Linked DNA regions of Homo sapiens. The protein of the gene in region 1 interacts with the protein of each later gene in a pairwise test. Each region holds a gene or a part of one and is shown in the gene's direction. Other genes may lie near its edges.

The links. Proteins that work in one complex are often made in the same cells at the same time.
Region 2: the proteins of PRMT8 (region 1) and GPATCH2L interact in a two-hybrid assay, tested with the Homo sapiens proteins (one large-scale study listed by BioGRID and IntAct).

Annotation. Positions count from the first base shown.
Region 1 is NC_000012.12:3,535,644-3,540,535, forward strand, and holds part of PRMT8 (protein arginine N-methyltransferase 8), read left to right. Parts: intron 1-4,892. UniProt on the Homo sapiens protein: S-adenosyl-L-methionine-dependent and membrane-associated arginine methyltransferase that can both catalyze the formation of omega-N monomethylarginine (MMA) and asymmetrical dimethylarginine (aDMA) in proteins such as NIFK, myelin basic protein, histone H4, H2A and H2A/H2B dimer.
Region 2 is NC_000014.9:76,154,323-76,159,214, forward strand, and holds part of GPATCH2L (G patch domain-containing protein 2-like), read left to right. Parts: intron 1-31; coding exon of another isoform or gene 32-41; coding exon 42-703; intron 704-4,892.

The DNA of each region.
Region 1 (4,892 bases):
AGCAGGCAGGGCCAGACCTCCAGGGTGATGTGGGCACAGGAACCCTGGAAGGGACTGGGGGCACTGGAATGTCCAGTGGGGAGGGACTTGGGCACAGGGAGCAAATTGGAGGTGAGAAAGCTGCAGCCATGAGCAGACCAAGACGCTGATGTTGAGAGTCCAGCTGCCCATCCGAGTGTGATTCCAAATCCTTTTGCTGACTTCTCAGACTATGTATACAAGATTGGAGTTTGAAAGTCACCTTCACTCAGAGACTCTGCTTGCCTGGTGTGGCTTAGGGAGGAGTTGAGCCTTCTGACTTTACAGAGGAGACCACTGTCATCCCCCAAGACCTATCCCCTGTGCTCCTCAAGTCTCAAGAGCCTTCAGTTGTGGCTGAACAATCATGTATATCTCTTGGAGATGCATCTGGATTCCTATAAGTGTTCCAATTTGCCTGCATAGGATCCATAGAATACCCATATGTCTCTTGTTTCTTTCACAGGGCTGGCACAGTGCCTTGCTGTTGTAGAAGTTCAGCAGGTAGTTGTAGAATTTAAAAGCATCACCCCATGTAGCTGAATGTTCAGGGATCACAGGCCACGGCTGCTTCCCACCCACTCCCAGCCTTCAGGGAGAGGGTATGCCTGTCAGCCAATGGGCAGAGTGCCAGGCTGCAGACCAGGGTCTGGGCCAGTCATTTATTTGTCCCCATGACCTGTGGCTATTGAAATGAATGCCCCCAAATCCATGCATCCTTTTGCCTCCTGCATGGCACACGGCAGACACTTCATAAGCTGGCTGTTGGGGAGAGTCTCAGGGAGCCCCATGGAAAAGAGAACCTTGGAATCAGAGTTGAATGACAGCTTATGGGTGCTGGAGGCCCCTGTGACCTTGACCGTGCACAATGCCCAGGCCAGCTAGGACTTTTTCCTCTCCTTAATATATTTAAATGGAGTCAATACTGGGGTCAGCTTCATGCACACAGCCTTCTTCAGCCCTAGAGGTGAGGTGATCTGCACAGCTTCCTGAGCAGGGTCCTCCCTGGTGGCTGAGGTGTGGAGGGCCCCAGCCAGGCTGGATGGAGGTTGACTTTGTTTCGGAGCCCTTGCTTGGACACCGGAGTGCAATGCTCGGGCCACACATCCTTGGAGGAAGGGCAGCCTGGAAGTGGTGGAACAATCTGTCATGATCATATTTTTGTGTAATCAAACACTCTTCCCATAATACCTTTAATGGCCGCATAGTGTTCTATTGTGTGGCTACACCACAGTTTAATGTCTCACTTTGTGGAACATTTCAGTTGACTCCTACCTTTTGTCACTAAGGACAGCATTGTCATGAAATTCTCAACAGCTACATCATTATGATGATCCATGATTCTCTTCTTATGGTAAAGTCCACAGAACTTCAATTGCTGGGTTAACGGATTTGTGCTCTTTAACACTTCAAGTACATTTTACCAAACGGCCTTTCTAAAAGTCTTGACCTATTTTCATTCCCACTAGAAATGTGTGAAAGGACCTATCTCTCTGCAACTCTTACATATGCAGAGCTGTGGTTGTTTTGGTGGGAGAAGAGCTTATCTGGTATTTAAAAGCTGTAAGTTTTCTATTTGAATTTGAATTTACCTGATTTCTAATGAGGTTAAACATTTTTGTTGCACATCAACCTGCCATTTGTATTTCACATGTACTTGCCTCATGTGGACAGATTATCCAATCCTTTCCCCAATATTACATTGTGGGTGTTCATCTATTTTTGTATTGGCTTGTAAGAGCTCTCTACGTATTAAGGGCATTAACCTTTGTCTGCCACATATGTTAAAACGTACTTCTCGGTTTATCATTTGCCTTTTAATTTTGTTTATGATATTTATTGTCTGGAACTGCATTAATGTCTTCTTGCTAGACATCTTCTCTTATATGACTCAATGACATTTCAAACTCTGCATATCCAAATTGAAATTCATTATTTCCCCCCACCCCAACCTGCTCTGCCTGCTGACTGGCTTATTTTTGTTAATGTCACCACCATTTCCCTAGTCACCCAGGCTTGAAATGTTGAAGTCATCTTTGATTCCAGCTCCTCTCTCTTCCCCTACATTTTGTCAGTTGCCAAAGCCTGTAGAGTCTATTTCTGCACTTTCTCTGGCAGGCAGCCCCTCGGACACCCCAGTAGTTCAGGCTCTCATTATTTCTTGACTGGACTTTGAACATAGCCTCCAAAGTTCATACTTTGCCTCTCTTCCATTCCCTTCTTTTCCTTGGCCCCTCCTGTGTGCTGCTACCACATCTATCTTCCTAAAGAGGAGCCCAAACACAGAAGTCACTGCTTCCCTGGTTACAAACCGGCAATAGCTCCCCGTTGTCTTTTGTATTTAATTACGACCTCTTAGCCTGGCCATAATTTCCTTTCAACTGAATCTCTCACTGTCTCAGCCAAGCTGCTCCCAAACAAACTCACTGCTCTCCCGCCTTTTGGTTGCTCAAGCCGTCTCTTCCTCCACCTGCCAAAATCCGTTCAAAAAGCTCCCACCTCACCCCACCTCCTGCTATCCCAGGGCTTCCTGACTCTCTGCATTAAAGTGAATTCTCTTTCCTGTGAACCTCCAGAACAATTTGCTTGAACTTCTCTTGTAGAACAAACCTTATTCCAGCATCTATCAGAGACAATAAGGGTCTTAGAATCTAGAAAACAGGGTCCTGGGAGGGCACAGTTCCCACACGTCTATTTCTTCCACAGGACCTGCACGCTGCCTTGCTGTTGGAGATCTGTGCAGTAGGCAGTTGTGGAATTAAAAGCAACACCCCATGTCGCTGAATGTTCAGGGATCACAGGCCACTGCCGTTTCCCACCCACTCCCAGCCTCCGGGGAGTCTTAGCCTGTGGAGTCCCAGGAAGCACATGGAAAAGAGAGCCTTGGAACCAGAGTGGAGTGACAGCTAAGGGGTGCTGGAGGCCCCTGTGACCTTGACCATGCACAATGCCCAGACCAGCTCCGACTTTTTCCTCTCCTTCACATATTTAAATGGAGTCGATATTGGGGTCAGCTTCATGCACGGAGCCTTCTTCAGCTTTAGAGGTGATTCTGCAGCCTGCACAGGAGTGTGCACTTGACACAGTCTATTTTTAGCCTCCCAGAGACCGTGACCAACATCCCAAGCTGAGAGTGGGCACACCTGCTGCATTCTAATGAGGCAGCCCCACTCGCCTTTGCCAGCCCGCCCGGGATCTCACCGACGTGAAATCTGATGTTGCTAAACTGGGAAGTCTGCTTATTTCCCAAGGGCGGTAGCCTAGGTACACTGGGAAGATGGGACCATCCCACTGCCCCCAGCTCACTCCCCTGCAGCCCTGGACACAGAACAGTCTTGGGACTGCGCGGAGTGATTCCACGGAGGGGTTGAAATAACTTGGCTTTCTTGATCTTGCTGTGTCCTAGGATTCCCCTGTTTCTCTTGCTAGAAAGGAGACAGTAAGTCTGAGCTGACCCAGCTCACAGACAAGAAAATCGAGACATAGAACAAGGACATGATGTATGTAATAATCATAAGCACTTACTATGTGCCAGCCTGTTCTAAAGTCTTTCCATATATCAACTCCTCCAAACTTTTGGACAAATTTTTCAGGTAGGTTTTATTATGATTTGTGTTCTATAGAGGAGGAAAAGCTGAGGCACAGTGATGACAAATTATTTCCCAAGGTCACACAGCCAACAAGCGCTGGGTTTCAGAGTCAGGCACTGTGGCTCCAGGGTTTGTACTTTCAGCCAGTTCGCTATCTGCCTCCTAGTATCTATTTTTAATTTTACTAGAGCCAGGATAGGACCCAGGAGCCTGGATTCCCAGCCCTAGAGGACTGACTACTAGATAATACTCCTTTTTTTATTTTTCTAGTTCAGCCCTGCTTTGAGGCCTTTACTGTGCCTTGTACATCTGGGTCTCCTGCACTCCAGGCAGAGGAGGTCTCCTGGCATAACTGCTTCTGTTGCAGTGTTTGAGCTTCTGGGCTCCAATTGCTGTCTCTGGGCTCCAGAAGCTCTGTGGACCCCCATCTCCTTCTCCCTGCTCCGCCTAGCCTGTGGAGGACCAGGGAGCAGACAGTGATGGGCAGCAGCAGTGGGTGTAGAGCTGGGCTGGGCCTCAGGATTGGGGCACCCAGAAATAGCAATAATTGGTTGTGTGGAGGCCATCAGTGTGGGTATCCACAGTGCTGAATTCAGGGTAGAACTGTGAATCAGAAACTAGGGGGCAAGACAACAGGTAGGAGACACCAGAACCTAAGACATCTGCATTTTGGGGGCCGTATCCTCTTCTAGCTTGATGCTGCCTGTTGAGTGGAGAGAAGCCCATGGGTTCACGTTCCTGAGGATGCAGGTGGGACTTCGTTTCCTCTAACAAACTCTTACTATATGCCTGGCCCTTTTCTAAGCACTTTGAAATACAAACTTGTCTAATCCTCAGGACAACTCTAGGAGGCAGGGACCATTTTATTCCCATTTTAGAGAAAAGGAAACTGAGGCACTGAGAAGTTCATAAGTTTGCCCAAAGTTGTATAGCTGGGAAATGGCAGAGCTGGGATTCAGCTCCGGAATCTACACTCTCAGGCACCATGCTGTGCTATGCATCTTTCCCTTTATTGAATGTTTCCTATTTGCCTTCAAAGGAAGATACTATTTTCCCCATTTCACAGATACAGAAACTGAGGCCTGCATTGCTCAGGTCACCTAGCTAATAAGAGCTGAAGGTGGGTGAAATCTAGGTGTGTGTGGCTCCTCGGTGGACTGCCATCTCTGGACAGATCACAGCCATGAGCCCAACTGCTGGGAGCTGGAAGGGCTCACCTACCTCCCTTTCAGGAAGGGCTGCTGTGGCTGCTTGAGGCCGGGCTCAGGGAGGGGGAAGGAAAGA
Region 2 (4,892 bases), on another chromosome or scaffold:
TTTCTTTTTTTCCTAAACTTCCTTTTGGCAGATGTGGCCTCATGGATGAGCTGGTACACGACTTAGCCTCAGCCTTGGAGCAGACATCTGAGCAGAATAAGCTTGGTGAACTGTGGGAGGAGATGGCGCTGAGCCCCCGACAGCAGAGGCGGCAGCTTCGGAAACGCCGAGGTCGGAAGCGTCGTTCTGACTTCACTCACCTGGCAGAGCATACCTGCTGCTACAGCGAGGCCTCTGAGTCAAGTCTGGATGAGGCCACTAAGGACTGTCGAGAAGTGGCTCCGGTGACCAATTTTAGTGACTCTGATGACACAATGGTAGCCAAACGACACCCAGCTCTCAATGCCATTGTCAAGAGTAAGCAACATTCTTGGCATGAATCTGACTCCTTTACTGAAAATGCACCTTGTCGACCACTCAGGCGCAGGCGGAAGGTGAAGCGAGTGACATCAGAGGTGGCTGCTAGCCTTCAGCAGAAGCTGAAGGTGTCAGATTGGAGCTATGAGAGAGGCTGCAGGTTCAAGTCTGCTAAGAAGCAGCGTCTGTCCCGCTGGAAGGAGAATACTCCCTGGACCTCATCAGGCCACGGATTGTGTGAATCAGCAGAAAATAGGACTTTCCTAAGCAAAACAGGAAGGAAAGAAAGGATGGAGTGTGAAACAGATGAACAAAAACAGGGCTCTGATGAGAACATGTCAGAATGGTGAGATCTCCCTTACTAAGTCAAAGATTTTCCTGGTTAATTTTTCCCAAAGTGCACATCCATGGTCTTAGTGGGTTCTACCTTCTTTCAAACCAGCCACTCTAGTATTGACTTTGAAGCCTTCCTTGAATCAATCAGTAGTTTAGCTTTTTAAGGTACCATTCATGAGTCTATTTCCCTCTGTCAGGAAGGCTATATGTAATAGAAACACAGTTGTTTCTAAAAACTGTTTAAAACGCGTACCTCAAATGCAAAACTAATAATTTTATTTTAAAAAACAATTTGCTGCTTATTATGCCATACAGTTTATACATAAATATTGTTGTTTAGAACTCAGGTCTCAGCAGAGGCTGGTGTGTGTGTGTGAGAGAGAATATGCTAGCGCCAGGTATACGGAGTTTATAAATGTTCCATTAAGTTGCCTGTCCTCATTAAGAATCATGGCTTTAGATGCTTTTTGGCTATAATTCTGTTTTCTGCTACTTGTGGTTTGATTATATTGAATTTATTTTTTTATGGCTGACATTCAAATTGTCTGAACACATGGTGGGCTTTGAAAATAACAGTACCGAGTCCCATTAGTCTTACATCAGATGTGATCAAGCCAGAAAAATTTGTCTCTAATGGGTACATGTTTAAAAATGTAAGTGTAGTTTTGGTGACTTTTTATTTTTTACATCTCAGATAGTCCTAGGAACATTGATACCCCCCAGCTTGATACTTTAATGTTATTAATATTAATCTGTGGTTATCTTTTTCTTAATAGTGAGGATGCCATTGGTGTTTTGGATGGGACAATTCTTTATGGTGCATTGCAGAATATTTAGCATCTCTGCATTATTCACACCCCCTTTTCATTGTATCAACCCAAAGGCCTCCAGGGGTGATCCCTAGGTGGATTGAGTACTCCCAGTTGAGAACCAGTGTATTCTATTATTGTTAATATTAGTTGGCATTTATTAAGCACTCAACTATGGGCCAGGCACTGTACTATGGACTTAGCATATACTCTTATTTAATGTTCACAATTCCACTATATGGTGGATACCACTATTTGTATTTACAGAAGGGAAGTTGAGGTTATAAGAGCTTAGATAATTTGCCTAAGATCACCCAGTGCCAAAACTGGGAATCAAGCCTGATTCCAAAGCTCATTCTTAACCACCATGTTGTGCTGCCCTTTGAGTTGTTCTGTCTCAATTTAACTTTCCCAACTGTAGAACATATGACCTTTCTGAAGTTTAGCTTAAAAACAAAGACATTAATCTTAGGAACACTGAGGTGAGGCTGTGTCAGTAACAGGAAAAACTGTTTAGGTCTGTATACCTGTACCTTTCTTGAGTGGTTTTTAATCCAGCTTTTAAACTTTTTCTTATTAACTTTATATTTGCCAGTCTGCAGACTATATTGAGATAGGCTCATAATTTGACTTTCCTAATTTTCCTCTAATGCCTCATTCCTTCTAAGGTCTATTTGCAGAATTTATATGTATATATTTGGATTATAAAGGTATTTTTCCCTCATCAGACTATTTTTAATCAAACAAGAAATGCTTAGTCAACTTGTAGCCTTTCACACTATTGAAACCCTCTATTGAGACATTCAAGTTTGTTTTAATATTGAGCATATATACCAAATAGAAGTCTTCTTAGTATTGAGAATGGTGATTTTAAAAGTAGCCTTTTGGGATAGTAGCTTTGTGTATGTTTCTTCCCCTTAATTTCTTGTTAAACTACGACATAATTGTATGTGAGAGAGCGACTGTTAACTCTGTCTGCTCTAACAGCCCAAGTATGGCTCCAGATGCAGAGCCTGTTTTCTAGCATGAGATGCTTCACTCTTTTCTGTTCCTTCTTACTCCAGACACATCTATTGCACATTCTAGTCAGGATGTAATAATGTAAATTCTCGTTATCTGAGAGTCTGGATAACTTAAGTGGATGGGAATTCTTATGAAATTCTTACTCTTTTCAAATTGAGGAGAACTCATTCACCCATTTGGGCTATTATCCTGGCCCCTCACTTCAGAGTTCTTTCAATATGTAGATGCTAAAGGGTTGTAGCTGTGAAGGAATAATGGGCGGAGTGGTGGCACACACGGCATTGAGGAAAGTTCTTTAAAATCTTCTAGTTATTTAGGAGTTCTAAATTCCCCTTGACTTGTCTCGATTCATTTGTAGTTACAAACAGAAGTGCTTTGTATTTTTTCCCCCTGAATCCATTCTGTGGGGAAAGGGGGTGATTCTTACTCTTTGACTGAATGTTGTGTTCAGCCTCTCTTCAAGAGGAGAGTGGAACTAAAATCTCCCTTAATTGTTAGGCACACCTTTAAAAAGGGCTGGCATTAGAGTGTAAGGAGATAATAGTATATGATTTGGATATTATACTGTCTTGATGAGTTGATTCTGTCAATAATTTTCTACTTTATTTTTTCCCTGCATTTTTAAAAGAAATACTTTCAAGAATCTTCTTGGTTACCCTTTCATAAATCTACTTGGATGTGCCACTGTTTATTCACATACAGATCAAAATGTAGAATTTTACTTTTTAGCAGTGGTATTGAGGGTTGTCAGAGTAATGATCCACATTGTAAGATTATTAAGATGAAGTTGATTGTTAAGCTTAGCTTAGCCTAGTCAATGGTAGCGTTTTTTTTTTCTAAAGCATGTATTAGATGTTTTAGATTTGAAAATGTGTGTCTCAATCAGCTTATTTCTAATTTCCTTAAACTCACTCTTTGCGACCTAAACATGGAGTATAGACTTCATCAATATTTGTTTGCTTTTCTGTTTCTGGTCTTCCTTTAATATTACACCAGCCAATCCCTCACAAGTTTTGAGGAACTAAAAATGGTTATAGTATAGTAGTTTTTTTCTGCTTGCATAGAGATCAAACTATTATTTTAATATTTTTCTGTGTATGTGTGTTTGTGAGTATTCTAAAGCAGAACAACTACTGTAAAATTATTTTCTACTGATCTTTATTTAAATTGTCTGTATAGCAACTATTAATAGCTATTAGCTATTAGGTGACTGTAGCCTAATTTTGCTCTATTCTTTACTAACACATCATTTGTTTGTTCCCCTTGAATATAGTTTAGCTTCTTTTTTTTTTCATAAGTGAATTGGTTGGGTGATGGCCAGAGGTCACATTCAGGAGCCTTCCTAAGGTGATGTATTAGAGGCTGATCTCACAGGAAAGAAAATATTCTCCTCTCTTGGAAGGCAAGTGACAGAGATAGAGTGCTAAACCTACCCACTCCTTCTCCAGCCCAGGCTGACCTTCTGCGGCCCTTTGGTGCCTCTTGTTTTCTTATTTTTATAGAAAATCAATATCCCTTCTGATACAAACAATAGCTCAGAAGCAAGAATAAGTGGGAGAAAGCTGAGATCTCTGTCCATCACCTCTCACTTTAACTCCCCCAAACTCTTTAATTATGAGTGTGCTTTGCTCCAGGTGTTTGTGACAGTGAAATTGCTAAATGAGGACCATTTTAACCAAAGATTGGGTGATCAATAACACTCTATAGCAGTAGCTTGTTGGATCAATAGCATTCATTATTTCATGGTTAAGGTAAGTAGCCTCCTTTGCAAGTGGAGGTCATTAATCAGGGTTTCCTGGAGCTGTGTAAAAGAATATGTATGGTAGGTGGGGGTGTTCTGTTTTCTATTCTGTAAGTAGGGATGCTGACCAAGAATATATTTACCATTGTTGCAGTTGGTAGTATTGCATGTGAGATTCTCGAATAGCTAGCATAGTGTGCTTATGTGGGTATATTCACAGTTCTGCTAGTATCCTTAGGGACAACTAAAACACACAGCTTGGGAGGTCGATATGATACTATTGTACTTGAAGGTCTATCTCTTGAAAGAAACATCCATCTCGTAAAAGAGTCTACCTCTTAAAAGAAATATTGGGATTGTTCTGTGTGGCTCCACAGGACAGAACTCAGGGATAGAGAGTACAGAGTGTTAAATGTTGCTGCGGTTAAAAAATAAGATTCTAAAAATTAGGACTCTGTAAAAATGAAGTGAATTGTTTCACCATGTAATGCGTAATAACTTCTAGATCAGGTGGGGGGATTCAAACATGGGCTTGATGACCGCTTACTTAGTTGCTGTGGAGTTGAGAAGGTTGAACTGAAGGCTTCTGAGATCCCTTGTAACACTGAGATGCTGCGATTCTTTTC